Linked DNA regions of Homo sapiens: region 1 is linked to region 2. The links come from fine-mapping of genetic effects on plasma protein levels. A gene starts in region 2. The other region holds a variant in brackets. All regions are shown on one strand. Distances are between the middles of the regions. Region 1 has its middle 16 kb from the start of LINC02891. Region 2 holds the start of RTN4R (reticulon 4 receptor).

What was found. A credible set is the group of variants that fine-mapping cannot tell apart. PIP is the posterior inclusion probability: the model's chance that the variant is causal. The UK Biobank Pharma Proteomics Project read protein levels with antibody pairs (Olink). The fine-mapping took linkage between variants from a reference panel, not from the people measured, so its PIPs are less certain.
Region 1: its variant is the best candidate, but not a certain one, in a credible set for the plasma level of the RTN4R protein (UK Biobank, PIP 0.71).

What each region holds. Positions count from the first base shown.
Region 1 is chr22:20,181,608-20,197,002 of GRCh38, reverse strand. No RefSeq gene overlaps it. Among named protein-coding and RNA genes, the nearest start is that of LINC02891, 16 kb to the left of the region's middle. RefSeq lists a cis regulatory region at 8,323-9,026 and an enhancer at 9,820-10,357. The variant C/T (reference allele first, on the strand shown) is at 9,814.
Region 2 is chr22:20,265,172-20,279,514 of GRCh38, reverse strand. RTN4R (reticulon 4 receptor) reads left to right here and starts at 11,197. Exons shown (of 2, transcript NM_023004.6): 1 at 11,197-11,444. The coding sequence starts at 11,423. RefSeq lists enhancers at 4,351-4,851, 11,665-12,353 and silencers at 10,934-10,993, 11,044-11,203, 11,294-11,453.

The DNA of each region.
Region 1 (15,395 bases), 83 kb after region 2:
CAGGGGTCCCCGTGCCCCAGGGCTCAGGGGAAGGACAGGAAACCCCCCCACACACCCCAGGGGCCCGAGGCCGCAGGACAAAAGGACAGGCCACTATGGGCCCTGGGGGTCTGGAGAGGCGGGTGGCCCCTGGCCCACACAGGACCGGGAAACTCATTTCAGGAGTCTCTGATGAGGCTAAGGAGGCCTGTAGAAGGCAAAACATGTTCACAGAGAGAAACACGCATTCCCAGAGAGGAATTCTCAAGGCCAAGGACCGACAGCAGCAGCAGAGCCCGCATGCAGTGAGCGAGACCCCGTGGGGGAGCAGCAGCTGGCGGCTGCATTGAGTGAGCACACACAGAGCCTGAGCCAAGGCGAGAGATGGGGCAGACCTGTCCATTCCCTCGGAAGGCCACTGGGGCCGTGACCCCCAGCGCTGGCCACAGGCTGCCCTGGGCAAGCCCAACCCTGTGGAGGCTTCTTCATGTCTACTCCTGTCCCGTGGCTCCTGCTCTCCTCTGAGGGTCGGGAAGGGCCCAGCCACATGCCCAAGAGTTGAGGACCTACTCCTGGAAAATCCCAGCTCCCCTGGAGACGCAGGTGCAGGTGGGAGCTGTGCAGAAGGCGGCTCTGTGGCTTTGTGCCCTGTGCAGACACTGTTTCCTCTCTTAAGCCTCAGTTTCCTTCTCTGCAAGATGTCCCGGGATGTCAGGGAGGTGGTGTGCAGTGGGCTTCCCCCGCCCCGAGGCTGGTGGTTCAGCCCCTCAGGCAGAACTCAGGGACAGAGGAGCCCCGGCAGAGTGGACGGGGGTGAGGATGAGATGGACTGCCCTGGCTACAGGGGGAGCCTGTGAGGACCAGGGCCTCCTCATGCAAACACAAACCCATCCAGGCCTGGCTGGGGGCTCAGAGGGGTTAGTGATCTGCCAGGAGTCTGAGGCAAGCGTGGGGCAGATGAGCATGGAGGAAGCGGGCCTGGTGGTCTGGAGCTGCCTCTGGGAGCCTTCCTGGAGGAGGCTGTGTCTCCAGCAGCCTCAGAGAACAGCTAGTGTTTCTCGGTGGCATGGCCACTGCCTTCACTTCTCCCATCTCAGATCAATTTTTAATGTAGAATGAAAGCCGGGAGATCAGACTTTGGCAGACTGGCTGCTCAGTAACTGAGTTCAATCTCAAGCAGGGCCCGAGTGCCCTCCCCTCCAGCCCCCTGCGCCCTCGTCCTGGGAGGGCCTTCTCTGGCTCCACTGCCAGCCCACCCAACATCATTACCCCACCCGCACCTGCCCCCACATCTCAGCCTTCCAGAGTGAACACAGCTGTGTTTAGGGAGCTCCTCCAAAACTCAGTGAATGCTGAGGGCTCCTGGCAGGGGTCAGGAGAAAGGGGTCCTGAGGGCAAAATAGCAGGCACCAGGCTGACCCCATGGCCAAGAGGGCCTGAGGGACAGAGCCTGCTCCAGGGCGGGCTGGAGGCTGGGGCAGGGTGAGGACGGGTGAGGAAGTGCAAGCAGGGCTCACGGGCAGGGGGAGCTCCCCCGCGTGGTGGGAGGGCATGTGCCTGCAGTGGGGCCCAGGGAAGCGCCCCAGGACCACGGCCCCCAGATTTTGGCCCCAGGTTCTCTGCCCCCAGCTGAGGTTCACCTGGCAGGTGCCTAACCAAGCATCCAACCTAAAAGCCTCCCCAACCCAGGGCCACTCTACCTGGCTGGGACACCCTTGTGGGGTGTCTCTGTCGGGGTCACCACGTGACCTGGCTCCTGGGGCTCTCCGGTTTTTCAATGCCCTCAGTGAGTGGGTGTCAGTTTGTAGTTAGAATGAATGTGTCACATGCCCACAACGAGTGGGTGAAGGGGAAGCCTGGGAGGCCATACAGGGCCTGGCCAGGGCCACCCCACCCTAGGCCCACAGACAGCAGAGAAAGGGCCATCCTGGGGGTCCCCACCCAGCCTGGAATGAACAGGGAAGCAGCTGCTCCCAGGGGAGGGCCTGCAGGGGGAGGGGGGTCCTGCCAGGAGCTGAGGGCTTCTGGGGCGGTGCACCAGCCCAGGGCCCCACCCACCCTCCTTCCTGGGGTCCATGACAGAAGAGGGAGGAATCTACAGTGTTGACCTGGGGTCTGCAAGGAGATACCGGCATTTCCAAGCTGTGGGGCCCCCTGCCAGGCCACACAGATGGGCTGTGGGCAGCATCAGGCTGTGGTGAGCCCACAAGGATGCCGGGTGCCCATGTGGGGCCAGGAAGTCTCGGAACAGGTGAGGGAGGGGCCTGGGCAGGCTGCTGGGAGATGGCAGCACCCCCACCTGACCAGGGGCTGGGGTGGGGCAGGCTGTGGCTCTAATCTCAGTCCTGCTGTGTGTGCAACAAGGAGACATCCCCTCACTGATTTTTACAGACGAGGAAACCGAGGCTCAGAGAGGTAAAAACCCTTGCCTGGCGTGGACCTGGCTCACAGACCCACATGCTGAGGACCCAGCCAGGCCAGGAGCTCTCAGAGGTCCCGTTTCCTACCCGTGAGACGCTTGTCCACAAGCAGCCATAGCCCTAGAAAGGGAAGGCGGGACCCGGGAAAGGCAGGGCAGAGGGGCGGCTGGTGGACCCAGGGCCGACTTTGCGGGCCAGAGGCTGCCTGACCTACCACCTCCTCCAATAGAGGCACCAACCCCATGTCCAGGGGGATGGGTTGAGGGATACCAAGGTGGGGGTGGGGGAGGCCAAGAGCCTTGCCCAAGCTCCCCAGCCCGGAAGCTGCAGGCAGGACACGAGCCCAGGACATAGCAGAAGACAGCTGTCCCAGCAAGTACTGGGCACCTCCTGGGTGCAGTGCCCAGCAGGCCAGGGGCGGGTGCTTGCTGCCCATGGAGCCTGGCAAGAAGGTGCACACCCAGCGCTGGGGTTTCAGAAGGTCATGAGATGGTGGTGGGAGCCCCTCCTGGCTGGGAGCCTGAGATCCAAGGGACGTGGTAGGACCCAGAGATCAAGAATGCTACATGGATGGGGAAACAGGCCCTGGACCAGCACCTTGAGAGAAGGGTGGGGCTGTCCTGGCCCTCAGGCTGCCCGGCCTGCAGGGCTGTGGGCTCCCACGGGGTGAGCTGCATCCAGAGGCCCGTGAACCTGTGCCCAGGCAGGCCCAGCGCCCATTCTCTCCACCTGCACACGCATTCCCCAGCTGGTTTTTTGGCTAGTTCATTCGCTCACTGACCCCTCAACTATTATTTATGAGTCTCTCGGGTGGTAAATAAAGTCAGGGGAATGTGGCAGGAGCCAGGGTTGGGGGTCATGTCCAGGCCCTGCTTCCCTTTTGCAGGGGAGGGTGCTGAGGGATGACGGGTGCCCCCCGAGGCCAGGTCCCTGAGAACCCACTGTTCTGACCCCCAACGTGCTGCCGAGTCCAGGTCGCCAGGTGAGGGCCGCATGGGACGTGTCTAAGGTCGAGAGCTCTGTTCTCCTGCCTGCCTGTCCTGTCGTAATCACTGCCTGGGGACCCAACACCACACTGCTCCTCGAGGGCCAGCCTCCCTGTTCTGTGAGCATTGATTTCTGTGTTTCCAACAGAGACCGGAATTAGTAGCTGGCATTTGTTTGGGCAGAAACAGCATCAATATTGTCTCTGGGGTGTCCCGGGCCTGTTCCTGCCTGCAAGCCTGGAACAGGCCCCAAGCCCGACTCCTGGCTCAGCCCACCAGCCCACCAAGGAGGAGGACACAGAAGGCAGAGTGACCTGCCTGAGCCACCCGGTGTCTGGGCAAAGCCATTCGCATGGCACGGGAGCTCCTCCTGCCTGAGGCTGCTGCCTGAAAGCCCCCTTAGCACCTCGTTTCTGAGGCCTGAGAGCAGGAGCTCCCTCCACTCTTAGAAAGGACACTTCCTCCTGCCCAGTGCTGGGCAGGCAGTGGCTGCAATGTTCCCTGACTAGGGCTGGCCAAATGCATGGGTCTGAATCCATCAACTGAGCTGGGCCCGCCACATGCCTCCTCCCACAGAGGCCTGACACAGCCCCAGATGGGACAGCCTTTACCGATCCACTGTGTATATGCCTTGAGGGGGAGGCGCTGACCAGCCCAAGGCCCCCAGCCATAAGTGGTGTCCAGGCCTGGTCTCTTGTACCCTGGTCCTGGTAGTGGTCTGACTTTGGTTTTCTTCATTCCTGCCTCTAATCCTCGTGTGAGCAGCCCGGAGGCCAGCATGGAGGAGGCGAGCTGAAGGAGCAACAGCAGGGCCCTGAGAAGGGCAGGTCCTCCTCCTGAGGCTGGGGTGGCCCCTCAGGACCATCAGCGGGGCTCCTGACTTTCCCACAGACCCTGCTGCCTGCTGCCCTGGTGGGGTTGGGGCATTTTCAGGAACAGAGACATGTGCAGCAAAGTGCTTGCAGGAGCCCTGCCTCTGAGGTCCCCGGGGTCCGCCCTCCCCCAGCTAAGGGCTGATAGCATCGGGGCCAGGTTGGGGGGATGAGCATGGGGTGTGGAAGATGAGGGAGCTCAGGATGCATGTGGGCTCTGACCTCCCCTCCCCCTGCACCTCCAGCAAGCCCCTTCAATCCAACCAAGGCTCCCCATCTGGGTAAGGCCGTCCTGGGGTTTAAGCAAAAGGTGGGCACACAGCAGGTGCTCACAGGCCTCGGCAGAGGATGGGGTGTCTGGGGAGGGGAGAGGAAGGCTGCTCTGGGGACCAGCACAGGAGACCAGCCATGGCAGCCCAGGAACACCTGCCGCCCAGTGTCCATCTGAAGGCTGGTCACCAGGAAGGCCAGTCTTGACCCAGATCTGTCACCTCCAAAGCATCTGTGGGGTATGAAACATGGCCTAGCTGAGAGGCAGGATAGGGCTTCTCATGCCCAACCCTGCCCCTGGGAAACGTGATAGGTTCCTGCCAGCGCTCAGCCCCTCAGAGGATGGCTCAGCTCACAGATACACAGCAAGGCCCCCTGATCCCCCACAGCCACCAGAAAAGCCAGCACTTCCGGGACCCCCATTCCCTGACTCCCACCCAGGATGGCCGCAGCCTGCTTCACAAACGCCAGGCCCTTGCACACAGTAGGTGCTCAAGGGCTGCGTGGCCTCATGCCCCCTAACAGCCCCCTCCAGGACCCAGGAAGGAAGAGGGGGCCCAAGGGTTGAGGGTGGGTCTCCAGGAGCTCTGTGCAGTAAGATTCCAGAGCCCAGCGTGGCCTCCAGCAGAGCACCAGGGAGGGGTCCAGGGGTGTGCCTGCCCAGGAGGCTACGTGCAGGCTAGGCCCTGTGACAGCGATCAGAGGGGAAGGTCACAGCAGCTTCGTGCTCTGTATTGCAATGCATGCCCTGTTAATCCTCATGCAGGGCTCACACTAGCCCCTATGTGCCCCCATGGGTGGCCTTCCCCTCCTGTGACGCTGACCCCCAACCCCACCTGCCCGCCTGCAGCATCTCCAAGGCCTCCGGAGCAGAATTGAGAATTACAGCAGCTTGTCGGGCATCACTCCCAGCCAGGGTTGGGACCCGATCCATCCCGCAGCAGCATCTGTGACCTTCTAGAAAGGTCTCTGCCTGCTGGGGGTGGGCAAGCAGGTGGGGTCCAAGGCCGGCGCCCTGAGATCCACTGCCAGGAATTGACCTCATTTAGCTGGCAATACCTGCTTGAGCTTGGTGTTTAAGGAGCTGTCCTGGAGTCATCTATGCCCATGAAATCCCAGACACACCTGCACAGCCAGCTCCTGGGCTTCATCCAGCACAGGAAAAAGCAGCCGAGTGAGTGACGGAGCCTCAGGCTCCCAGTAAAAGCTGTGGACAGAGCCCAAGCTGTGCTGTCCTCACAACTCAGGGCAGAAAATCTGGAGGAGGCAGTGAGGACCATTCCCCTGAAACAGGAAAAGTTCCTTTGTCCCCTTCGCAGGGCATGCAATGGGGGTGTGGCTCACTTCTTCGGTGCCCTGCTGCTCAAACCTCTGGGGGAGCATACAGACGGGCAAGTTGTGGGGTGTTGACCCCACGGCAGTGTCTAGGGGTGGATGTTGACAGCTCGTGAAGCCCCACTGGGCGTGTTACAGGGTGCTTTTAGTTTAGCCATCTATAGGCAGCTTGTGTTAACCAGCTCAACTAGACCCCTGCCTTATCACAAGGACAGAGGGCTTTCTGGATCCTGGGGTTCTTGCCTTGTGTAAATCTGACCACACGTGGGCTTGGAGAATGAGTGCAAGGTTTTATTGAATGGAAGTAGCTCTCAGCAGATGGGGGAGCCAGAAGGGAGATGATTTTCCCCTGGGCGGCCTGAGCTCTCCTACGACTGCCCCAGCCAAACTCCACATCATTCTGCCGCAGCCGGCTTCACAAATGCCAGGCCTGCCAGTGCCTGTCTGTGGATTCCGCTTGACGTCCAGCCACTTGTGCGTTCTTCCACTGATCCACTCCTCTCAATGTCCAGCCGCTAGAGTATCTGCCTACTAGGGTCTCAGGGGTTTTTATAGGCACAAGATGGAGCATGGCAGGCCCGGGTAGTCTTGGGAAATGCCACAACATGTGGGCAGGAAATGCCTGTCCTCACCTAGGTCCATGGGGGTGGAACCCTAGCCAGGGACCATGCCTTCCTCTACCCAGCACTTTCCTTCCCCTCTTTTGAGATGGAGACTTGCCCTGTTGCCCAGGCTGGAGTGCAATGGCCTGATCTCGGCTCACTGCAACTTCTGCCTCCCAGGTTCAAGCAATTCTCCTGCCTCAGCCTCCCAAGTAGCTGGGATTACAGGAGTCCACCACCACGCCCGGCTAATTTTCATATTTTTATTAGAGACAGGGTTTCACCATGTTGGCCAGGCTGGTCTCGAACTCCTGACGTCAGGTGATCCGCCCGCCTCAGGCTCCCAAAGTGCTGGGATTGCAGGCGTGAGCCACCGCGCCCAGCCCCCTTCCTCTCTTTCGTATCATTTAAAGGGACCACACTGTTCCCTTTCAGCACTTCTGAAACACCCCCAGGTTGGATTCTGGGGGCTTCTGTCTTCCTTAGCATGTGGGCGTTTCACACCTTTTGTGTCAATAGCCAGTACTGTCTTTGCCGTGGGGTGGTGGGAGAACAGGAAAACACATGCTTTTTTGTGTTTTGTTTTTGTTTTTTGTTTGTTTTTTAGAGAAATAGTCTTGCTCTGTCACCCATGGTGTAACCATACCTCACTGTGGCCTCAAACTCCTGGACTTAAACAATCCTGCCTCAGCCTCCCAAGTAGCTGGGACTATAGGTGCAGACCACAATACCTGGCTAAGTTTTTTTGTTTTGTTTGTTTTTGGTAGAGATGGGGGTCTCGCTATGTTGTCCAGGCTGGTTTTGAACTCCTGGCCTCAAGTGATCCTCCTGCCTCGGCCTCCCAAACCAGTGCTGGGATTATAGGTGTGAGCCATTGGGCCTGGCCCCAATACATGCCTTTTCTGTGGGACCATAGTAGGTGGGTATATCTATGGGGTACATGAGATACGGGGTACATGAGATATGTTGATACAGGCATACAATGGTTAGTGTCACATCAGGGGAAATGGGGTGTCCATTATCTCAAGCATTCATCATTTCTTTGTGTTACAAACACCCCAATTATACTCTTTTAGTTTTCTGTCTGTTTGTTTTTTGTTGTTTTTTTGAGATGGAGTCTTGCTCTGTCGCCCAGACTGGAGTGCAGTGGCTCCATCTTGGCTCACTGCAAGCTCTATCTCCCAGGTTCACACCATTCTCCTGCCTCAGCCTCTGGAGTAGCTGGGACTACAGGTGCCTGCCACCAAGCCTAGCTAATTTTTTTTTTTTTTTTTTTTTTTTTTTTTTTTTTTTTTAGTAGAGACAGGGTTTCACTGTGTTAGCCAGGTTGGTCTCGTTCTCATGACCTCATGATCCGCCCACCTCGGCCTCCCAAAGCGCTGGGATTACAGGCGTGAGCCACTGTGCCCAGCCTCTTTTAGTTATTTTTAAATGCACAATAAATTATCATTGACTGTAGTCCCAATACGTGCTTTTTTGTTTGTTTGTTTGTTTGTTTGTTTGAGACAGAGTCTCACTTTGTCGCCCAGGCTGGAGTGCAATGGCGCAGTCTCGGCTCACTGCAACCTCCACCTCCCAGGTTCAAGCGATTCTCCTGCCTCAACCTCCCAAGTAGCTGGACTACAGGTGGGAGGCACCAGGCCCAGCTAATTTTTGTATTTTTAGTAAAGACGGGGTTTCTTCCTATTGGCCAGGCTGGTCTCAAATTCCTGAACTCAAATGATCTGCCTGCCTCGGCCTCCCAAAATGCTGGGATTACAGGTGTGAGCCACCGCGCCCAGCCCCAACACATGCTTTTTAATGGTCAAGACCAGTAGGCCCATGGGGCCAGAAGCAGGCATGCCCCTGGCATGGCCCAGGCTGGCCCAGGTGTGGAGGGAGGCGGTGGCGGTAGCTTCACTCTCAAGTCAGCAGTAGGAGTCATGCCCCCAGATGGCAGGAAGAGGGTGGGCACCTGGGGATCCCTTCAGGGGGGTGGACAAGCCTGGGGTGGCTCCAGCTGTCACCTGCTCTCTGTGAGGCCTGGGCAGGGGACCCAAGGGCCCTCCTCAGTTTCCTCGTCTGCACGGTGGAGGCAGTGGGCCTGCTCCCAGGCTGAGTGATATCAGGGGCTGTGGGCTCTGGGCTCCCATCCCACTTTCTGGGAGCATCCCCTGGGCTCTGACAGCCCCTGCCCAGTTGCTGAGGCTGCCCACACCACAGGGCCAATGCTGTTCCCATGGAGCAGCAGAGTGTCCCGAGTTCCCACTGCTTCCCTGACACTCTGACTCCCATCCCTCCTGGGCCTGCTGCCAGCCCCATGCCAAACCCAGGGTGGAGGTGACAGCTGGGCACATGCTGGACACCAGTGTCCTCAGCCTGTGGCTGTCCTCACCACAGGGTGCCTAGGTCAGGATTCAAACCCAGGCCTGAGCTGCCCCTGTCTGTGCAAGGCTCTATGCCCCCTCCTTCCAGCCCATCTCAAGTGTCCGACCCCAGAGTGCTCGTGCCGGACACTGGCCGTGTGGAAGACACCTCCAGCCACAGGGAGGCCCTGCAGCCAGGGCCTGGGGTCCTTGCTCACCAGGGTGCGCACCACTCACCTGGAAAGGAGACAGGGCCACCTCCACCCAGCCCCAACACACGGGCCTCAGGGGCAGGGACCGTGAGATGGAAGGAGGGCCTGGCGCCCTGGGGCATCAGTCGACTCAACATCCAAACACCTGCCCTGGGCAGGTGAAGAAGCAAAGAGGTCAGGGCCTGGCTCCACCCAGCCATGCAGCCTCAGGCAAGAGGCAACATCCTGGGCCTCAGTTTACCCTCTGGGAAGAGGGCGTGTGTGAGGAGCTGGCTCAATATAGCAGGTCCTTACCACTGCTCATGTGGGTCTGTGGATGGAAGGCCCCCAGCTGCATTGGGTTTGGCTGTAGAGTCCTGGGACACAGACACCACCCAGAGTGGCCTCAGACAGGAGTCCCACTTTTCCACCAGCCCCTTGCTGGTGAAGGACACTTCAGACTTTCGCCCCATTCCCTGTCACTGTTATCATGAATAAGTATGCTGGGAGGTTAACAGGTAAATAAAAAGCATAGCTGGACACAGTGTGAGGCCACAGTGGCCGGAGGACTATGGAACCTCAGGGCAGGACAGCATCTGGGCAGCCAATGCCAGCCTTGGCAGACCCCATGGCACCTGCCCAGAGGCTACGTGCAGGCGTGGCCCTGCAAGGGGGGCGGTCAGAGGCAAAGGTCACAGCAGCTTCGTGCTCTTTACTGCAATGCATCCCCTCTGTTAATCCTCACGTGGGGCTCAGACAAGCCTCTGTGTGCCCTTCCTTCTCCTGTGACAGGTGGCCTTCCTCCTCCTGTGA[C/T]GCTGTCCCCCAGCCCCTGCTGTGTGCAGACCCCATGGCATGTGGGCAGCCAACGCCAGTGTTGGCCACCAGACAGCAGCCCAGGGAGCTCAGCAGGGCCAGGCAGTAACAGAGGCCAGGGCGGGCTGGGAGTTTCCCAGGGAGGGTCCCCACACCCCCTGCTCCCCTTTCCTTCCCACGTTGTCCCTTCCCACTTGCCCCCAGCCCACACACCGGCCAAGGGCCAGCTCCACCTGCCCACCTGCTCCACTATTGTTTACTCGAGGGCTTTCTTCGAATGGGCTTTTTTAACTTAAGTGATTATATTTTGAAAGGAAGTCTTACAGCACCACTGGAAATGGAAAATAAGCATCGCAGGTGGCAAGCAGAAGGTATTGGAGCAAACAGAATAAAAGCAGAGTGCCATGAGATCCCACACAGCTAGGCCTGCGGGAGGCGCAAGCCCCTGCTCCACTCAGCCCCAGGAGGGGATTACGTCCCAGTCACACCGCGGAGGACAGGGCTCTGCCTCCCAGCCCCACTCACCAGGAGAGCGCCCCCACCTGATGGTCAGAAAGCTCTTCCTTTAATCAATGCAGCTGATACTGGGCAACATCTGTAAGCACTGCCTAGTGGGGACATGAAATGACTGAATCTTGGCCCCAGTTCAGAGACAGTGTCTGGGGACAGAGACTCCTACTTTCCACAGTTTCCCCAGGCCCACCCTCAAGTCCCTCCCTGCACAGGAGCGTGAGCAGAGGAGACAGACAGCAGCCCTAGCCTGGTGATATCCACACCTAGGCTACCTGGCCATCTCTTAGACTCACCTACACCCGCCATGCTAAAGGCACTGAGAAGTCCTGCAGAGGATACATCAGCCTTGTTTAACTCAGTATTTCCCCAGGACTCCTTCTCCCCAGCTCTACCCTGGGTGTGGAGGGCCCTCTGTGAAAGACAGACAACAGGCAGCCTCCTGGTCAGACCTCATCCATCCACACTGGTGAGCACACTAACAAATCCAACTTCGCTCAAACAGCAAAATGATTCCCACACAAATGACATCTGGCAGTTCTTGTTGTGTCCAGCAAAGCCATGGGACAGGCAGGACTGCCCAGGGCTCCATATATCCAGGCCAGGAGTGGCAGCTTCACCCAGCCCACCCCAACCCCCAACACCAGCCCGAGCAGGAGAGGTAGCCCCCACTCCACGCTCAGCCCTTTACAGTATATTCCCCCCGCAGACCTTATCAGTGCCTTGGCTGATAACTCTCTATCCAGACATCTCAAACTCAGCCATAAAAGGAAAGTGAACATGGCTCTCTCCTGCATGTGGCAAGTGCTCGTGCTCCAAAGAGGCTCTTGGACAGAACAAAGATGCTCACCCCTCCCCGCTGGTCCTTGCTGGTGCTGCTGAGAGAGACGCACCCACCCCTCAGGGATTCCTGGGGAGGGCACCATGTGACTACAGCCCAGCACCCGGCATAGGGACTTTAGAAGGGTCTCTGTCGCCTCCCAGTTCAACCTACCCAGGAGGGTCCCGTGACCCGTGCATGGTGCAGCTCCCAGGAAGCTGCCCAGGGAGGCCCAGTCCATAACTCTGCAGCTGCAGAGCCCATGCCCAGCTACCTTCTGGGAGGGGCAGCATCTGCAGTGGGGACTTCAGGATGGGGCAGAGCTTTGGGGAGGGAGATGCCAGGTGGAGGGAAGAGCAGAGAGTGTTTGGGAACCTGGCTCCCATAATCCCAGGGCTTTGGGAGGCCAAGAAGGGAGGATTGCCTGAGGCCAGGAGTTTGAGACCAGCCTGAGGAACAAAGTGAGACCGCCATCTCTACAAAAAATAATTTTAAAAAAATTATCTGAGCATGGTGGCACACACCTGTTGTCCCAGCTACTCGGAGGCTTAAGCAAGAGGATCGCTTGAGCCCAGGAGTTGGAGGCTGCAGTGAGCTCTGATTGTGTCACTGCACTCCAGCCTGGGTGACAGAGCGAGACCCTGTCTTTTTAAAAGGTGGGGAGGGGTAGGGGCTAAACAGAACAGTGGTCGCCAGAGCCTTGGAGAGGGAGGGGTGGCCGCTGTGACCACTGCTCAGCCTGAGTGGCCCCAGTATGCCTCTTCCCCTTGGCCTTCAGCCCACAAGGCAGCATCCTCACCTGCCTCACAGAAGGGGGTTGGTCCCCAGGTCACTCTGCCAAGAGGGGCCCCACGGAGGCCCAGGGCGCTGCAAGGAGCTGCTTCCTGGGTGTCAGGCTCCATCCTTGGGCAGGTGTGGTCTGAGCCAACGCCCTAGGCCGGGCCACGGCGGGGACCCTGTCCAGGTGGCCGGGAGGGTACAGGAATCCCTCAGCCCCAAGTCCATGGCTGGGGAGAAATCCTCGGGTGGGGGCAGCAGCGTCAGGGCTGACCATCCACCCCCCAGCCATGAGCCCGGGGGCTCTGCTACCTGGGAGTCTCTGCTAATTGGCCCCAGCGCCTCCCAGGCTGAACGTTGCTCAAACATGTCAACCTTGCTGCTTGATTGACAACCTGTCACTGTTTCGTGAGGTTTCTGAGGTGTTCCCGGGACTCAGCAACCTTGAAAGTTGGATAAAGAACTCCAGGAAACTGGCAAGTCAGTCAGCGGCCAGAAGTGAGGCCCTTTCCCCGCATGGGGGCTGTGAGGGACTGTGGGGTTCATGGGGGCCTGTGCGGTGCATGGGGGCCTGTGGGGTAGGTACATAGGGGACTGTGGGGTACATGGGGGCCTGTGGGGTACATAGGGGACTGTGGGGTGCACGGGGGCCTGTGGGGTTCATGGGGGCCTGTGGGGTGCATGTGGGACTGTGGGGTGCACAGGGGCCTGTGGGGTTCATGGGAGCCTGTGGGGTGCATGTGGGACTGTGGGGTGCATGGGGGCCTGTGGGGTACATAAGGGCCTGTGGGATGCATGGGGGCTTGTGGGGTACATAGGGGACTGTGGGGTGCATCGGGGACTATAGGGTACATGGGAGCTTGTGGGGTACATAGGGGACTATGTGGTTCATGGGGGACTGTGGGGTGCATGAGAGTCTGTAGGGTTCATGGAGGACTCTGGAGTTCACGGGGTACTGTGGGGTTCATGGAGGACTGTGGGGTTCTTTTGAACATGCTTCTTTTGTAATGAGAAGAAACAACAAAAAGTTAAGGCTGGGTCAGGCAGGAGGGGCCCCTGAACCCCTGGGACCCCAAAGCCGTATGGGGAAAGTGACAGGGTGGGTAGGCCCAGCCCCACCATAGGCCTGGAGCCCTGACACAGGGCAAGAGACTGCGCGGTGCCCTGGCCCTTCCCACCCTGGCCTCTGTGTCTGCTGGGGGCCCTGCTCCGTGCCCAACCCAAGGCATCTGGCCCCGAAGGATGGGGGCATGTGTTCTGCCGGGAGCCATCTTTCTCCACTGTGCCCAGGTGCCCCAGGCAGGAAGCCCGCTGGGGGCTTGAAATAGCCACCTGTCCCTACCTCACTAGCCCTGAGCCGTCTTGGGTCCTGGGGACTTCCCAGAGGTCCTACACAGGGGGGTCAGTCTCCAGCTCTGGACCTTGGGCCGTGCCTGGCTGCCAGGGACGCAGTCAGCTAGACTCTGAACTGGAGTCACTGCCCTGGGGGATCCTCCAGTCTGAGTTTGAGCAGAGCTGGGACCAGATTGGGAGGTGAGTGGACGTCGCCCGAGACTCTTCAGGCACTGCCAGCCCGGTGGGCGCTCGTCTGCAGACCAGGCTTATGGAAGGGGTTAATGTGCCCAGGGCCACACAGGGCAGACGGGGGGCACAGCCATGTCCTTCACAGTGGCCAGACCTGAGGAAGCCAAAATGGCTCGGCGGTCACTGGGCCAGCCTGACCGCCACACACAAGGCAGATGCCCTCAGCCCTGTGTGGCAGATGGGTAAACTGAGGTACAGATGGGACCAGGGTGCACAGGAAGCATCATGAGCCAGGGCTGAGCCAGGTCAGCGTGGGTACAGCAGCCATGTGTTTCCATGATCTCATGTGGCCAAAGAGCCTGGAAAGGCAGGTCCCACACTAAGTTGGAGACATGAGGCCAGGGAAAGTGGACATTGTCACACGGGCTGGTGACTCCGTGAAGCAAGGCCCAGAGGAATGAGAGATGGAGACAAGGAGCAGAGAGAAAGAGGCCAGGAAAGGAAGCCAGTGGGAGAGGTGTGGGGCCAGGGGAGGCCAGGAGGAGGAGCAGGGCTCAGGACGAGACCTGGGGAGGAAAAGCCACTCGCTGTCCACAGGGCCATGCCATCTGTGAGGCCCACCCCATCCACCCCAGCCCAGGGCCCTCCCACCCCTGCCTCCCCTTGTCCTCCAGCCCAGTGTGGCCCGAGGAGCCAACATCCCACTCAGAGCAGAGGAGCCTCCTTCTGTGGCCATGCTTCTCTGTGTGGCAGCCGGCAGTGGACCCTCGCCTCTTCAGGGAGCACGGATAGAGAAGGGCATGACAGCCCATGCAATAATGACCACTGGATTAGCCACTGCTCCTGTCATTAAACTGGCACCATCATGAGACCTATTTCAGAGCCACAGGTTGAGAAGGGCCCTTCCTCATCGAGGGCCAAGGCCTGGGGATGGCAGTCACGTGGCCCTTGAAGGTGTCCGTGTCAGGGGAGCAGCTGGGAGCAAACCCGCTGTGCAGGAGCCCAGAGGAGGCCACAGAGCTCTGAGCTTTGCTGCGTGGGCAGGAGGCGCCTCCCAGGGCTCAGCTGCAAGGGCTGGTGCTCACACTGGGGACAAGAAAGACAGACCAGGTCCAGAGTCCCAGGCCTCTCCCAATGCCCCAGAACCAGGCCCCTCCGTCCCACCCCCTGGGGCCCTAGGTTGGCGTCACGTGCCCTCTGCCCCATGCCTGTGCCCACCCTGGGATGGTGTCTCCCCTCTCTCAGGTCTACCTCCCAGCACAGACCCTCTCAGAGGCCTCTTTGGGCTCCCCCAGGGACCCCACGGCACTCTTGTCACGGCCCAGTGTGCCCATCTCGGGGCTCCATCCAGGCCCAGCCAGCCGACAGCCGGAGTCCATCCATCACACTGCCCACCACCCTTCCGGCCTGATACGGTTAGCTCTCGGGGAGCATGGTGGCTGCTGCCAGCAAGGGGCCCCCAGGGAAATCAGCCGACATCAATAAACCTCCCTCCGACACCCCACGGCCCCACGTGCACCATCACTCTTCCGCATCGACCGGCCCACCAAGGCCGCAGCTGCGGTGGCAAGGAGAGGCCCCTTGTCCATCAGCCTCGGATCCCCTGCCGCCCAGGAGCCCTCAGCCAGCTATCCCTGCTCAGCAGCATCTCCTGGCTCCCGGCCTGGCTCCATCACCGGGGCCCCAGCCCGTGTCCAGCCTCTTGGGGTGGGAGCGGGGGTGGGGTGCTGGGCAGTGCCACCACCCATCAGCCTGACATTTCCAAACAGCCTGGCACCGCCTCCTTCGCGGGCAGGACCAGCACTGTCAGCAGCTCCCCAGGCTCCAAATGCCAGCGTTGCCACCCAAGCTTGGGAGGGAGAAGCCCAGAGGCCCTGCCGGGCATCAGAGAGCCCAAGGTGGGCATGGGCAGTGGGGGTGCAGGGGCCCTGGGGCTGCTCTGCCAGCCTGA
Region 2 (14,343 bases):
TTGGGGGAGATTCTTCCCCCTTGCTCCACCCCATGAACTCTGGTGAGGGTGACCACCACACACCACAGTTACTTCCCGGCCCCAAGTGGCTGGCCCATCAGGGACTTCCCAGGAGTCACAGGTTGGAGGGAAGGAAGCCAGGGAGAGGTGGCAGAGCCGGCTGCACCCCAAGGCTGTCTCCAAGGGGCCCATCCTTGGCCTCCATCCACCCCTCCCTGGCCCGGACCCCTGTCCTGCCTCAGCAGCCCAGCCCACGGCAGCTGTCCCTTCACCGGCTGCAAAGATGGTGGCCCTGGTCCTGGCCGTGGAGCAGGCAAGGCGCGTGGAACATAAAGAAATATGGTTGTGAAGTGGCCAGGCCATGGAGGAAGCTCGGGGGACCTCGATGTCTACATTAAGACCTCCCAGGAGTGGGTTGTCCCTTCTGGAAGGGTGCTGGGGACAGCCGTGTGGCCCTTTTCAGTGGAAGGATCCCACATCCTCAGGCAGTGCCATCACATCCCCCGAGAAGCCCTGAAACCCAGGCATGAGGATGCAGCTGGCCCGGTCCTGGCAGGGAAGGGAGCGCAGCAGCTGGGCTCCGGCTCGCCTACCCACTGATCGCCAGTGTCCTGGGTGAGAAAGCAGGGGGCTTTTGTGCACACATGGGCCTCGGGACTGGGTCAGGGCTCAGGCTCCCCAGACGGGAGAAAGTGCATGCAGGGCCACTGGCTCCCCAGCTGAGGCTGAGGGAGGCGTCCTTGCCTTCCGTGCTCAGAGCCCTGTCTCAGGTGCTTGGCGCTCTTCTCTGCATCTTGGGTTTCCAGCAGGCCTGCCCCGCCCCAGGACTTGTGGGGAGGCTGGGACTGACCGCGATCCCCCAGGAACAAGGCAGATGATTGATAGAACTGGGCCCCGCCTGCTCTCTCAGCCCCCAGAGCCCCCAGAGGTGAGCTCCAGATGTCACCAGGGCTAATTTGGGAGCCCCTGCCCCATAGAGGAAACCCCCTGCACCAGGCAGAGCCCCGCTTGGCCCCCGCTTCAGCCGAGGGCTGCGGCCCACACTGCCACCTCCCCTACCCTGCGGCGGAGCTAGATGATGGCTGTTCTGTCAAGGGGGCCCTCGGCCTAGAGCATCAGCGCCACTCGGCCAGGACTAGTTCAGGTGGTAGTTCGGGGCTTTGACCCCGGCCTGTCTGATCTGCAGGCCGAGCATCCCCCACCACACTGTTTTCTACAGGTTGGAATGGAAAGGAGGCCAGAGACCAGGAGACCCAACCACAACCACGCAGGAGAGGGCTGGTCAGGGCTGAGGCTGCTGCCCCTGACCTGAGAGCAACAGCACCATGCCCCTCCATCTGCCATCTGCACACAGGGTCGCCTCCAGCCCACAGGGCAAGGGGGCCGGGGCTGGGTCCTGAGTGCAGGGGTGTCCTTGGCAGGGTAAGAGTCAGCCTAACTCAGACTCCACTGCCACACTTTGCAGTGAGACTGACAGGTGGAATAAACCCACCAGGCCCCCCAGCACCAGGAAGAGCTCTTCGGAGTGGCCCAGGCCTGGCCATGTCCCTGAGAGAGGGGTACTGCTGGTGCGCCCTGAGCGGGGGGTGGGCTGGGCCCTACTGCTTGGTTCTATCTCAGATTTTTGCTAATAAGCCCGTCTTTTTTCTTTTTTTTTTTTTAATAAACTTTTCAACTTTAGAACAGTTTTATCTTTGCTGAAAAATTGAGAAGACAGTACAGAGAGATCGCATCTACCACACACCAGTTTCACCGTTGTGAGCATCTGGCATTGGTAGGTTAGAGTTGCTGAGCCAATAGCGGCACACTATTATCAGCCATCGTCCATGCAGTGTTCACATTTCCTTCGTCCTTACCGATGTCTTTTTCTCCATACCAGGATCTGATTTTGGTCATTGAAATTGCCAAAAACAAGGGGACACAGGAGTGTGTTTGGCCAGGTGGGCCACCTGCTGCTGCCGCCCCCAGATGTTCATCCCAGCCCCCCACACACTCGGGGGATTTTCAAAGGGTCTCACGTGTTGGGTGCCAGAGACACCCTCCTGGGCCTCGGATTCCTCCTCTGTGATGAAGGCGGGGGCTGCTGGCTCCTCCATACCACGCTCGGCCCCCAGCAGACAGGCAACAGGGGCCTTGTCCCACTGTAGCTGTGGTCAGGTGGTCCAGGGCTAGACGGTCCTACGGGGAGCTGAGGCCCCCACCTCGAGATCTCCCTGCCCAAGACACCAGTGGGGTTGGGGTGGGTCAAAGGCCTGTTCCTCCAGGGCCCATAGGAGGGGCTTCTTAATCTGAGGGTGAGAGGGTTTGGGAGGTGACACCCCAACTCCCACCCCAATTCTCACCCTCCACTTCTCACCCCACAAGCTATCACCATGACTGCCCACCTCCACTTCTCACCCCCACCTCTCATCCCTACCTCTCACCTGCCGCTCTCACCTACCACATCTCACCCCCAATTCACACCCCTACCTCTCACTCACACCTCTCACCTTCCAGTTCTCACTCCATTTCTCCCCTCTCAACCTCTTCCTGCCCTGAGCTCAGCCTCCACTGAAAAGGTGGCCTTTTCCCCAGATAGCTGGGCAGGGGCTGGACCGGACAGATTGCTGGCAGGGGAGGCACACTTGCTGTTCTTTGGTGAGAGTGGCTCTTGCCTCCTATGATCCTGGAGCTCAGGCCTGTCCAGCACCCCTCCTGGAGGCAGCAGGGTGGGTGTGTTCCTGCAGACATGGACAGACCACCTTGGCACTCAGGGACCAGCGACCCAGCCCCTCATCCGGGCAGCCATCCTGGATCACTCCCCGCTGCTCTAGCTGACCGGCATCTTAGCACCTCCCCAGGGAATGTCCCCAGGCCCTGCAAACTCAGTCCTGTCAGCCCCAGCCCGCTCTGGGACCCCTCAGGAATGCTCCTTTCCTCAAGTCCTCTTCCTCCCACGGCCTCCATTCCCCCGGATTCTCTGCTAGGAAGTAGATCTCACCCTGTTTCACCATCAGGGAAACTGAGGCTGGGAAGGTAAAGATACTGCCCAGAGCCATGCCTGTGGGAGGCCTGGGACTTGCTGGTGGCCTGTGAAGGTTGGGCAGGGGGGGACAGCTTGAGTCCGCAGGACCACCAGGACCACATCTGGCAGTGGAGGCCTAGGGTGAGGGACTGGGGCTGAGCAGGGCCTCTGTGCTGCCACTGTTGAATGTGACACGGCTCCTGAGAAGCAAGACCAGAGACAAGTTAAGCAGGCCTCTGCTAACGGGGCGCTAACAAAGACAAGAAGGGTGAGCAGGCATCAGGAGCGCTTGGGGACTCGCGGTGGGATGGCCATGAGAACTCGGCCCACGGCCATGTCAGTGGTGGCAAGGAGAGGATGGATGTCAGCTGGTTTTTATTTTATTTTATATTTATTTTTATTTTTTTTTAATTATTTTTCTAGAGGGTCTTGCTCTGTTGCCCAGGCTGAAGTGCAGTGGCACAATCATGGCTCACTGCAGCCTCGAACTCCTGGGCTAACGTGATCCTCCCGCCTCAGCTCCCAAGTAGCGGAGACTACAGGCGTGCATCGTAACAGCCAGATAATTTTATTTTTTAATTTTTATAGAGACTGGGACTCACTATGTTCCCCAGGCTAGTCCCGAACTTCTAGCCTCAAGGGATTCTCCCCGCTCTGCTGGGATCACAGGTGTGAGTCACTGCACTTAGCCTGTTTTACTTTAAAATATATATATTTCCTGTTTTGAATGGGTATCCTCTCCTTCCACCCCATCCCCAGCGACCTGACACCCCCAGCTGTACCTGCAGGCGGTCCCCCTCCTCACCCCCACTAGACATATCTGTGAGTGCCTCACCCCGGCCCCACCAGACCCGCAGGCCTCTCCCTGCCCTCCAACAGCCAGACCTGTGGGAGCCCCTAAGCAGCCCCCCTAGGGAACCCCCAGCCTGATGCGGCTGCCATCCCTGTGGGTGAGGGGCAGCATCTCACTGCAGCTTAGATCCGCATGTTTCTCACTCTGAGTGAAGGTCAGCAGGGGGTGATGGGAGGTTCCTTTCATGCCTTTGCCCATTTTTCTCTTGGGCTGTTGCTCTTTTTCTTACTGATTTGTATTGAGAACCAAAAACGGCCCTTTGTGAACTGAGTTGCCGATGTTTTTACCCTTTGTTGGTTATCATTTTATGGTGGTTTTTTTCTCTCCATGCATCTGCCTTTTATTTTCACGAGGTTGAATATACCCATCTTTTACTTCATGGCTTCTGGGTTTTGTATAATTCTTAGAGTGACTCAAGATTGGTTTTTTGCCATCCATGCTTTCTTCTAGGAGTTTTATGGTTTCATTTTTACTTTTTAAATCTTAGTTCCACTTGGAACTTGTTTTAGCGTCAAGGAGTGAGGTAGGAATCCAAATGTTTCCTCCATATGTCAATTCCGTTGTCTTAAGGCCAAGTGTTGATTGTATATGTGGGATTATTTGTTGAATATTCCATCTCTCCTCTTGGATTTGACCTGCCTCTTCTCATATTTGCATTTGAGCCTCTTTCTGGACTCTTTCCCATCGTGTGACTGTCCAGGGTCTGTGTTAATTATCATGGTCTTAGAATATAAGGCGTTTCAGGATGCGACATGGCCCATCTCTCTCCGTACGTTCATTCTTTCATGTGAACTTCACAATTGCTCTGGATGGGCCTCCTGATTCATTCAAGGAACAAGCCATCAGGCTTCAGCCAGGCCAGAGAATGGGCCGTGGGTCCCAGCACTGGGCTTTCATCTGGGTTCCATCCGATTGGCCTGTGCCCCAGGGCCTGGCTCCTCGGGACTCAGCCAGTCCTGCCGGTGGAGTGCATAGGCATGACGCTGAGTGCTGGACTCTGTTTCCACGAGAGGCCTTGGGGTGGAGGGGTGTCCCAAGGGAGTGGCCGAGGCAGAGGACCCTCTTTCTGGATGTCCTCACTTGCCCATGGGAAGGGAGGTGGTCCTGGCTGAGCCACAAGGCCCTGCAAGCCCAGGCCCTGCACACATGCACCTTGGTAGAGCCAGCCAGAGAGGCCTGATGACCAGAGCACCTAAGCGGCAAGGGCAGGCAGGAGTGCCCAGGAGGGAGCCAAGCTGTGGCCGCTCTGCTGAGCCATCCGTTCCAGCAGGCAGCAGGCAGCGGACTGAGAATGCTCAGTTCAGAACTCGAGCCTGGGCATGAACCGGAGCCTCCAGAAACCTGCCCCTTAAGCGGGTCGGCTAAGAGTGGCAGCTGGGAGCTGGAGACCCAGGACACAGGCAGCCCCCAGCAGCCCATGTGGCCTCTTCTCAGCCACACCCCGAGGGCCCCAGGCTCTGCTCCCACCATGGCCGGCCTCCTGGGAGCCCCTCGCCTGGCTGGATGGGCCAGTGGGGCGGGGGCATTGAGCAGAGGGTGGGTGGGGCCAGCAGACCCCAGATGTCCGGACACAGACTAGGAGAAGCGCCTCTAAGGCTGGCAGCAAACCCCGGCCAGCCTGGACCGTCAGCAGGAATCCTGGCTAAAAATATCCCAGTCTCAGAGGCCTGCCGGCTGCTGCAGCCTCCTCAGAGCCCCCTCCTCACGCTGGGCACCGCCCCTGTGCCCCTCCACCTCCCTTGCAGGCAATAAGGCCTGCGGACACAGGAGGAAACTTAGGCCCTGTGCCAGTGAGTCCCAGCCCCAGGGCCTGGCCTCCAGGACTGCCCACAGAGGCCCCCATCTCACTGTAAGGCCCCGCCCTGCTCCGCACCCATGAGCCTGGGAAGGGGTCAGGGCAGGCCCCATCACGACTAGCTCAGGCAGGGGCACAGGCTCTGCTGGCCCCACCCTGCACAGCTCCCTGTCCCATGGCTCTCAGAGGCAGAGCCACTGGCTGGGGGGCAGAGCCCCAAGGACTTGGTCTGAGTCACCCTAGCAGAATGTGGGGTGCTAGGTGGGCTCTTCCCAGTCACCCCTGTGGGCTTCAAGTGACCAAATGGCATGGCTATGCCCTTTATCCTGGAATCACTGACTGGGGGACTCAGGCCAAGGCCCGCCTCCCAGGCACTCAGTTTCCCCACCTGTAACCAGTGGGGATATGTGGAATGGGGGTCCAGCAGAGGTATGCAGGGTGTTACAGTCTGCCTCCCAGAGTGTTTGTTGAGTGACTGAGGAAGTGAGCAGATGAAGGCGGCAAGGGAGGCTGTGGAGGGTGGGGCTACTGAGCTCAGAGTCAGGCTGGCCCTTTTGCGTCCTTGACGGAACCCTGTGGTAAGCCCTCAGCCTCTCCATCTGGGAAACGGAACAAACCTGCATGCTGCATGGATTGTGGTGGCCCAGAGTGGGGAACCCAGGGGCCCAGGGAGCTCCTACAAGAGCAAGGCTGGGCACTGGCCAGCCGAAGCATCCCAGGGGCCATCTCACTATGGCCCCAAGATGGGTTTGGCGGTCTACCCTGCCTTCCACTCCCCACCCACTCCTGCTGACAGCTATCACCATGCCTTCCCTGCCTTCCCTGCCCCACTGGGAGCTTGTGGGTGTTTTCAGCGGGTGCCCCTCCCCCCCGACCCGGTTTTGACTGCCCGCTGGGCTCCTGGTGTGAACAGCGGCTCCCAATTTAGCTGTCACTGCCAGGTGGGTGGCTCTAGAAGGATCCACACTCCCTGCAGGGGCGGGGGAGGGGCGTGAAGCCACAGCGGATGCCTTGGGCACAGCCCAGGGACCCCCGCCTTCCGGAGCTCTGCCCCTGCACCAGATTTGGGCCTTCAGGGACCAGAAGCCGCCTACTCCCCAGCCCCCACCAGCCGGCCTCCCCAGAGAGAGGCCACCAACTCGGTTGTGCCCACTGAGAGAAGACCCTGAGCCCATCTGCTGGCAAACACAAGTGGCCCGAGGCTCATCTCAAGGTCCAGGAGCCCTGGGGACTCACCCCTTCCTCTAGGCACCAGGAAGAGTGGCGGACCAGGGTCCAGGTGCCAGCCTGGCATGTCCCACTTGGCCGAGTGTCCTTTCATCTCCGTTCAGGCTCCCATCCTGGAGATGGGCCACAAGGGATCCAGTCCAGGGCTGGGGGACGCAGAGGTAAGGGCCATCACTGTGCAATGCATACGTCCCATTGACGGTCCCCAGCAGCCTCCAGGTGGTGGGAGGTGCGCATGGTCCGTCAGGGGGCCTGCCTAGTGTGGCACAATCCAGGATGCCATTCTGTGGGAGGAGGCCCTCGCTAGTGAAGGGTCAGAGGCATTTGGAGATGGGCAGGCCCAGTGGGATTCTTGGGGCCACTGCCAGGGTTTGGTTGTCGGTCCCTTCCTTGTGCCAGCCCCCTTTGCTGCTGCTGTGGCTTTGATGAATAAGAGATGAGGAAGCAGATTAATTATGGCTTAACATGCACCAAAGTTGGGCAGAGGGACTCCTAGGGATGGGAGTCCTCAGGGGTGCAGAGCTGATAGGGGAAGGCCAGGACACCCTCTGCAGCCCCGGGGATGGGGGATGGTGAGAGGCTTCTGGAGGAGGCGGAGGCTGTGGACAAAGAGAGGGCAGAAAGGGGCTGCCAAGATGTGGGTCCACCTAAGCTCCCCAGACCTCCTTCTCTGGTCTGGAAAATGGGTAGTGGTAGTAGTGTCTACACTGTAGGATTGAATGGGATGACTCACTCAGCAGGCCTGGCACAGAGTCCTCTTAGGCCTTGGGCATGCAGCCGCCCTCCATGGTGAGAGCAGATGGCAGGCCAACACCCCCCAGCTCCCTGGCACTGGGACCACATCCCCAGCCGCCCACTCAGAGTGCAGGGAAGGTCAGTCACATTGACACACTTGGGCAGCAGGCATGTGCTTGCCACATGACCTTCTAGCTTCCTTCTTGGTCTCTCCTTGCATTGGCCTGGAGTGGCCCAGAATGTGTGGAGCAAAGACCCAGTTTCCTTGCTGCCCCATCCCTCCCCAGGAGACACTGAGGGCCTGGATGTCCGTGAGTACCGCACAGGCATGCCAAGGAAAGCCATGGCACGCCTATCTCTCCAGGCAGGAGATGAGTCTTCCCAAGCCCTGGGAAGCAGTGACCTTCCAAGGAGGCTGAACCGTGTCCCTGTCAGCCCAAGACAGGCCACCGCGAAAGTTCCCCTCATCTCAAGCTGGCTTCTATGGGCAGTCCTGGAGTTTTGAGTGAAAACCCTGCATGATCCTCTCAGGGGACAGGCGAGGTGAACAAAGGAGGGATGGTGACCAGCTGACCAGGACCTGAGGCATTAGCGTCTGCCTCGTCCACATGCTGTGCAAGCTCAGCGAGGCCAAGGGACTGGGCTGAGGTCACACAGCTGGGCAGGGCCCTCATGACCGGCATGCTGGTCGTGGAGGCTGAGCCCCACATTTTGGGTGTGGGTGTGGGTGGGAGGTGAGACAGCCCCTGGCCTCACTGTAGAGGGGTGGTGGGCTGGGGAAGCTGGCAAAGAATGTGCCCCACATGGTGGGTGTGAGGTGGGGAACGATTCGGGCAGATGCCCGTGTGGCCCTGCTGACCCAGTCCAGGCAGGGTGTGACAGGTCTGTGTGGCCCTGAGGGCACAGCTGTCTGCAGTCTCCAGCTCACTCCTGATCCCCAGGGCCACGTGTCCAGAAAGCCTGGGAGCTTGCATCAGCTGGGCACAGATGGCCTGTCCTCCCAGCACCCCTGATGGGGCTTCCTAGGAACTGACTGGTGTAGACTCCGGGCAGCAGACGGCCAGGCTCTGCCCACAGGGTCCCTGGCTCCTCCCACAAGGTGACCCGATAGAACTGGTTGTGCCCCTTGACCAGGGGCTCCAGCCCTTGTCAAGCCCTCCCTGCTAGCCCCTCACCAGCCGTCAGCTGCTCCCCTTCTTGCCCGTTGGGCCCTGGGGGGTGATGGCTCCGTGGTCGCCTGCCCAAAGAGTACACCACTCCCCATGCTACCCCTCACCCGGCTACACCCTGAAAAATGTGGCTTACCAAACCCTCCCACATGCGCAGCCTGAGAAGTGGGCTGTGCCTTGCTGGTAGCAGACCCACCGGCTGCCTAGCCCTGCTCAACTCTGCCTCTGCACCCCCATAACTCCCTATCAGCGCTGGCCGACGCCTAACCATCCCAGCTAGCACCCAGGAGTGGGCCCAGCTTCCAGTGGGGAGGGTGCTGGCCAACGTGCTGACCGAGGTGGCGGACACAGGAAACCAGCCCATCCCCCAGCGCTCCCTCTGCAGGCCTCAGCCCTGCTCCCATGCAGAGACCTGTGGGGAGGTGGAGGCCCAGGTCCCAGCGCAGAGCAACCGGGAACAGCCAGGTTGGTGGCTGGAGAGGGTGCTGGTGCCAGAAGCCTCCAGGGCCACCCCTGCTCCCCATTTCACCCCATGCCCATCCCATGCCCCAGAATGGTCACTTCGGCTGCGGCAGGAGGGGTGGGAGGGGCTTTAAACCTATGAGATAGGGTGTGGGGTCACAATCTTCAGCTATAGTGGGCTGCTCTGGGTCACTGGTAATTGAAGAGACGCCTGCGGAGTAAGCAAGCAAGTGTCCTCTCAAGGCCTTTCTGCAAGCACAGAGCAGCCCGAGACTGGAGCCTGGTCCACCCCAGCGCTGTCCTCAGACTGATGGTCAGTGCCACGTGACTCATCTAGGGTCTGATACATCCCTGTGGAGAGAGCTCAGTTCCTAGCCTGGGGGCTGCTGTGTGCAGGGACCCTGGAGAAGAATGCTTGTCTGGGGGTCAGGCCTCAGCCTCCCACTGGCTCTGTGAGCTTCGCCTGAGGTTCCCTATCTGTGCAATGGGTGATGACGTCTTGGTGTGGCTCTGGGAGGACCTGTTGAGCCACCTCAGGGGCTGAGCTGGTGGCACTCGGCAGCCAGCACCCTCTGGGGAGGTGGCAGTGTGTGCACAGCCCACCCCTTCAGGAGGCCAGGGGACAGAGTGGCTGGGGGTGTCTGGGCCCCACCTCACCTTCTGTGTGGCTGGGAATGGCATGCACTCCACAATGCCCTCATAAGCCTAGGCTGGGACAAGGGTGATAGGGATAAAGCAGGCCAAAGTGATGAGGGCCACAGAGCGGCAGCCAGAGGCATGTGGGCAGTGCAGCCTCCACACCAGGCAGAGGGCCCACCCAGCATGGCTCCACCCTGCGAAGCTGCCTGCCACTGGGATCAGATGGGAGCACCAGGGCTCTGGGAGGTCCTCACTTCCTCTGCACAAGGCAGGCAGGTCACCGGCCCTGCGCCCTGCTCATCTCCCTCAGGGCCACCTCCATGGCCAGGGGCAGGCAGAGGGCACAGGGGTGCCCAGTCACCAGGTCTCTCTGCTTCATATCAGTGGACCTGGGCTCTGAGGGGGGCCATCAAGGCATCAGGCTGGCCCACTCCGTCCTTGAGTCAGGGTCCTACAGACTGACACCAGGTGGGCCTGCAAGACCCTCATCTGCATGGTCCTCTCATGCAGGGTGGGCCTGGGGAGGACCCAGCCCGGCTGAGCTGACTCCCAGCACTTCTCCAGGTGCAGGGGCAGCCTGGCAGTTGTCTGAAGACCCCGGGATGCACTTAGGAGCTCATCGGTGAGGCCCGGTAGGTGCCCCGAGCAGAAGATTGAGAAGGGACACCTGCACCCCTGTGTGGTGTGTGCAGGGGCGTCACTGGATTCTCTGGCCCCATGCCTCACACCGCCCGTGGGGGGCTGGCTTGGTAGAGTGGGGGGATACTAAGCAGGTGACCTCGGAGAGCGTCTTCTGGGTTTGGAGCCCCCATTCCGCAGAAGGGAAGAGGTGGGGGACCCCTGCAGGGTTACGGGTAACATCAGGCCTAGGTCCCTTCTCTAGGATGGTGCAGAGAGGGCCACAAAGGCCCAGGAGGGCCCCCAGAACTCTCTTAAGCCCTGAGCCTGTTTCTTACTGAAAAATGGGGGCGATCGTGCTGCAGCAAGGGGCTTCTGTGCAGGGGGCGGGGGATTCATGGGTTTCGTGAGGCCAGGAAGGGAGTGGGTCAGGCAGAGGCCATTCCTAGGCCTCGGGACAAAGCCCTTGCCCGCTTGGGGACCGGGCCAGCCTAGGCCGCCACACCCTCGGGCCCGCGTCCCCGGCCGGCTCCGGCCCGGGCCGCCATCCCCTCCGCCGCCTGCAGGGGCCGCCGCCTCTTCAGGAATGCGCCGCCTTTGTCTGGGACCGCGCGGCGCCGGTGCACCGGGCGGGCTGAGCGCCTCCTGCGGCCCGGCCTGCGCGCCCCGGCCCGCCGCGCCGCCCACGCCCCAACCCCCGCGCCGCCGCCGCCCTCGCCCTGTGCGCCCTGCGCGCCCTGCGCACCCGCGGCCCGAGCCCAGCCAGAGCCGGGCGGAGCGGAGCGCGCCGAGCCTCGTCCCGCGGCCGGGCCGGGGCCGGGCCGTAGCGGCGGCGCCTGGATGCGGACCCGGCCGCGGGGAGACGGGCGCCCGCCCCGAAACGACTTTCAGTCCCCGACGCGCCCCGCCCAACCCCTACGATGAAGAGGGCGTCCGCTGGAGGTGAGTGTCCGCGCTGCACCCGAGCCCGGCCGGCGGCGGGGCGCGGAGGGGGGCGGCTCGCCCCCTCCCCGGAGCCGCAGGGCCCGTCCCGGGCTGCCGAGGCGAGGGAAGCGTAGCCGGGCGGCAGGGAAAGCCACCGCAGTGCCGCGCCAGGCTGGGGCCGCTGGCGCCCCGGCCCCGGGAGGGCGGAGCCGGAGGCGGCAGGAAAAGTTGCCGCTTCCCGGGAAAGTTGACGGCTTCGGCAGGGCCGAGGGTGGCGGTCCGAGGGTCCCCGATGCTGGGCCAAGTCGAGGGCGGGGGCCGTGGGCTGGAAGGGCGGGGCCCGGCCTCGGAGCGCCCCGGCCACCAAGGGGTTAACGAGCGGGTTTTTGCAGAAACGTGGGTACCGAGGGTGGGTGGGGGTGTCGGGCCGCCTCCACCCCAGCCTCACGGTCTGGGCTCAGAACCTCCCGTTTCTCCGAGGTCAGTCCACAGTGGGATGAATGGGGGCGTTGGCGGCAGTAGAGGGCGTGGGGGACAGGGTTGTCCCAGCGCTGCCTCCAGGGCGGGCGGTGAGAGGAGGCAGCAACGCCCGCCATCTGCAGCCCGAGGGACATTGAGAGGCTTGGCTGGGGGAATCAGGGGCGGTGGGGCAATCAGCAACCCCTCCCTAGCAGCCCTCGTGGGACTCCCCCGCCCCACCGGCTGTGAGGTCCCGCGGTGCGGGCAAGGGAGGGTGGGCTCCATGTGAGTTGGGCATGCCCCGCCTGGAGGGTGCTCCCCAGGTGCCCACCCAGGCTGCCCTGCTGATGTCCATGGTGCCGCAGGCTGCACACACGTTTCCTTGCACGTGCACTTGTCTACACGGACTGCACACTTGCACACCTCTGGTGCACATGCAAGCCAACGCCGCCCCAGTGTGCACATGCACAAACACTGGGTGCACACACGGACTCTGAGGGTGCATATCTGTGTCCTCGCCCCCGCCTGCACACCCACGGCCACACATGCATGCACGCGGCATGCCTGCTGTGGTCTCCACGGGTGGCACATGCTGGGGCCCCTTTCGCAATAACCACTCCCGCACCCACATGCTCGTCTGTTGAGTGGGGAGGCCAGGCCCACAGACAGGGGCAAGACATCCTGGGCCCCACCTCTGCCTGCCTGCCTCCGTGTCCTGGGGGTCCCCGCCTCGGGCTTGTGTGCGTGTGTGTAACTTGGTATGCATCTGCACGTGTGTCTGTGCGCGTGATCATGTGTGCCTGCGGGCACATAGGCATGTCTCTTTGCCTCCAGGGTGTGGGTGCCCCTTGTGTGCCTAGACAGGCTGTGGCCTAATCTGGAGCAGAGGCCCTGGAATGTGTGTTGGGGGCTCGTTGAATACCGCAAAGCCCAGGGTGTGAGGGGCAGGGTCTCCCAGCCACTCCCTACCCACCAGGGCTGAGGCAGATAGATGATGGTGGGCTGGAACCTGTCTGGGCAGGGAAGACCCATTTCAGGCCATGAGGTCAACACTGTGACCAACAGGCCAGACCCTGGGCACCCTTGGTGGCCGCTGCAGCTTGGCTGACTGGAGCACGTGACCCAGCGTGACTGCAGAGGCCCCGCCTCCAGTGCCTCAGTTTCTCCATGGTGAGGACCTTCTTGGTGAGGGGTTCTGTGGTGGGCTCCCCTACCTCCGGTGTTGTGTAGGGTGCTGAGCAGATGGATGCCATGCTGCATGATGGGCAAGGGTGGCCCACTAGCACTGTGGCAAGGGCCCTGGGCTGGGGCTTGGATTGGCAGGCCACACCTCCTGCTCCCCTGGCCACCACCAGAGGCTCATCTATAGAGTGGGGACCAGCAGGTTATCCTTGTAGGTTGTGTGAGGGTGAAACATACTAGCAGAGGGGCAGCTGAAGCAGTGGGGCTGGCCAGTCTCTTTTTCTAAGCCTCAGTCTTCCCATCTATAAAGGGGGTACTGTTCCCTGTTCTTCTCTACTGAGGTGAGGAGGAAGTGAGCTCCCATGCCGGGGGTGGGAATGGGTGGCCATCAGCACCTAGACGCCACCTGGCAGAGGGGCACGTGCAGGGCCTGCCGTGGCAGAACCGTGACCTGGATTTGGGTCCTGGCTCAGCCACCTGCTGGCGGTGTGACCTTGGGTGTGACAGGTCGCCTCTCTGCCTCAGTCTTCCTCACCTGCACCATGGGCCAGTGGTCAGGGATTATCGGGGCACTTCCAGGCTGAGGCTGGGCGGAATTGGCCCGGCTTTCCCTGTGGAGTTCTGACTCTGGTGCTTCTGCCTCAGAATGCCCACAACACCTCCCCACACCCCCACTCAGCAGAGTCCTCCTGGGACCTTTGCACTGCCAGCTGGCCCCTCACCCCATCCATGTGCAGAAGGGACAATAAAAGCCCCTAGTCAGGCAACTCGGGCCACAGGTGAGTGGAGAGGGGACAGGGCAGGGATGCTGCCCAGCTTGGGAGACCCTCCCATAGTACCTTCACTCCCTCCCTGCCCTCCCCCTGTTCCTCACCTGGGGGTCTGTGGAACCCCTGAGCCTCAGTTTCCCCGTGCCAGGGTCCTTCTGCTGGGACTGGCAGAAACGTAGGTTTGCATGGAGTGAGAAGCAGGGGAGAGGCTGAGGGAGGGCCTGGCCCAGCACGTCTCTGAAAGCCAGAGGGCTTGTGGAGGGTCCATGGAGGACACCCCTACAGGGGCTGGGGCCCTGGAAGGTGGGGGAAGGTCCTGCTGTCCTGGGAGGCTGGGAACTGGCCCACAGCCTGTGGAGGGGCCAGGGTTTGTTTGCTGTTGCTGTGAGTGACAGGCAGGCTGTGAGGGCCAGGGTGTGTGGGACCGTGCTCTCCCCCTCCCTCTGCCCAGGAACAGTGCAGCCTTGTAGCATTGCCCTCTCCTCGTCCCTGCCCCAGCCTTGAAT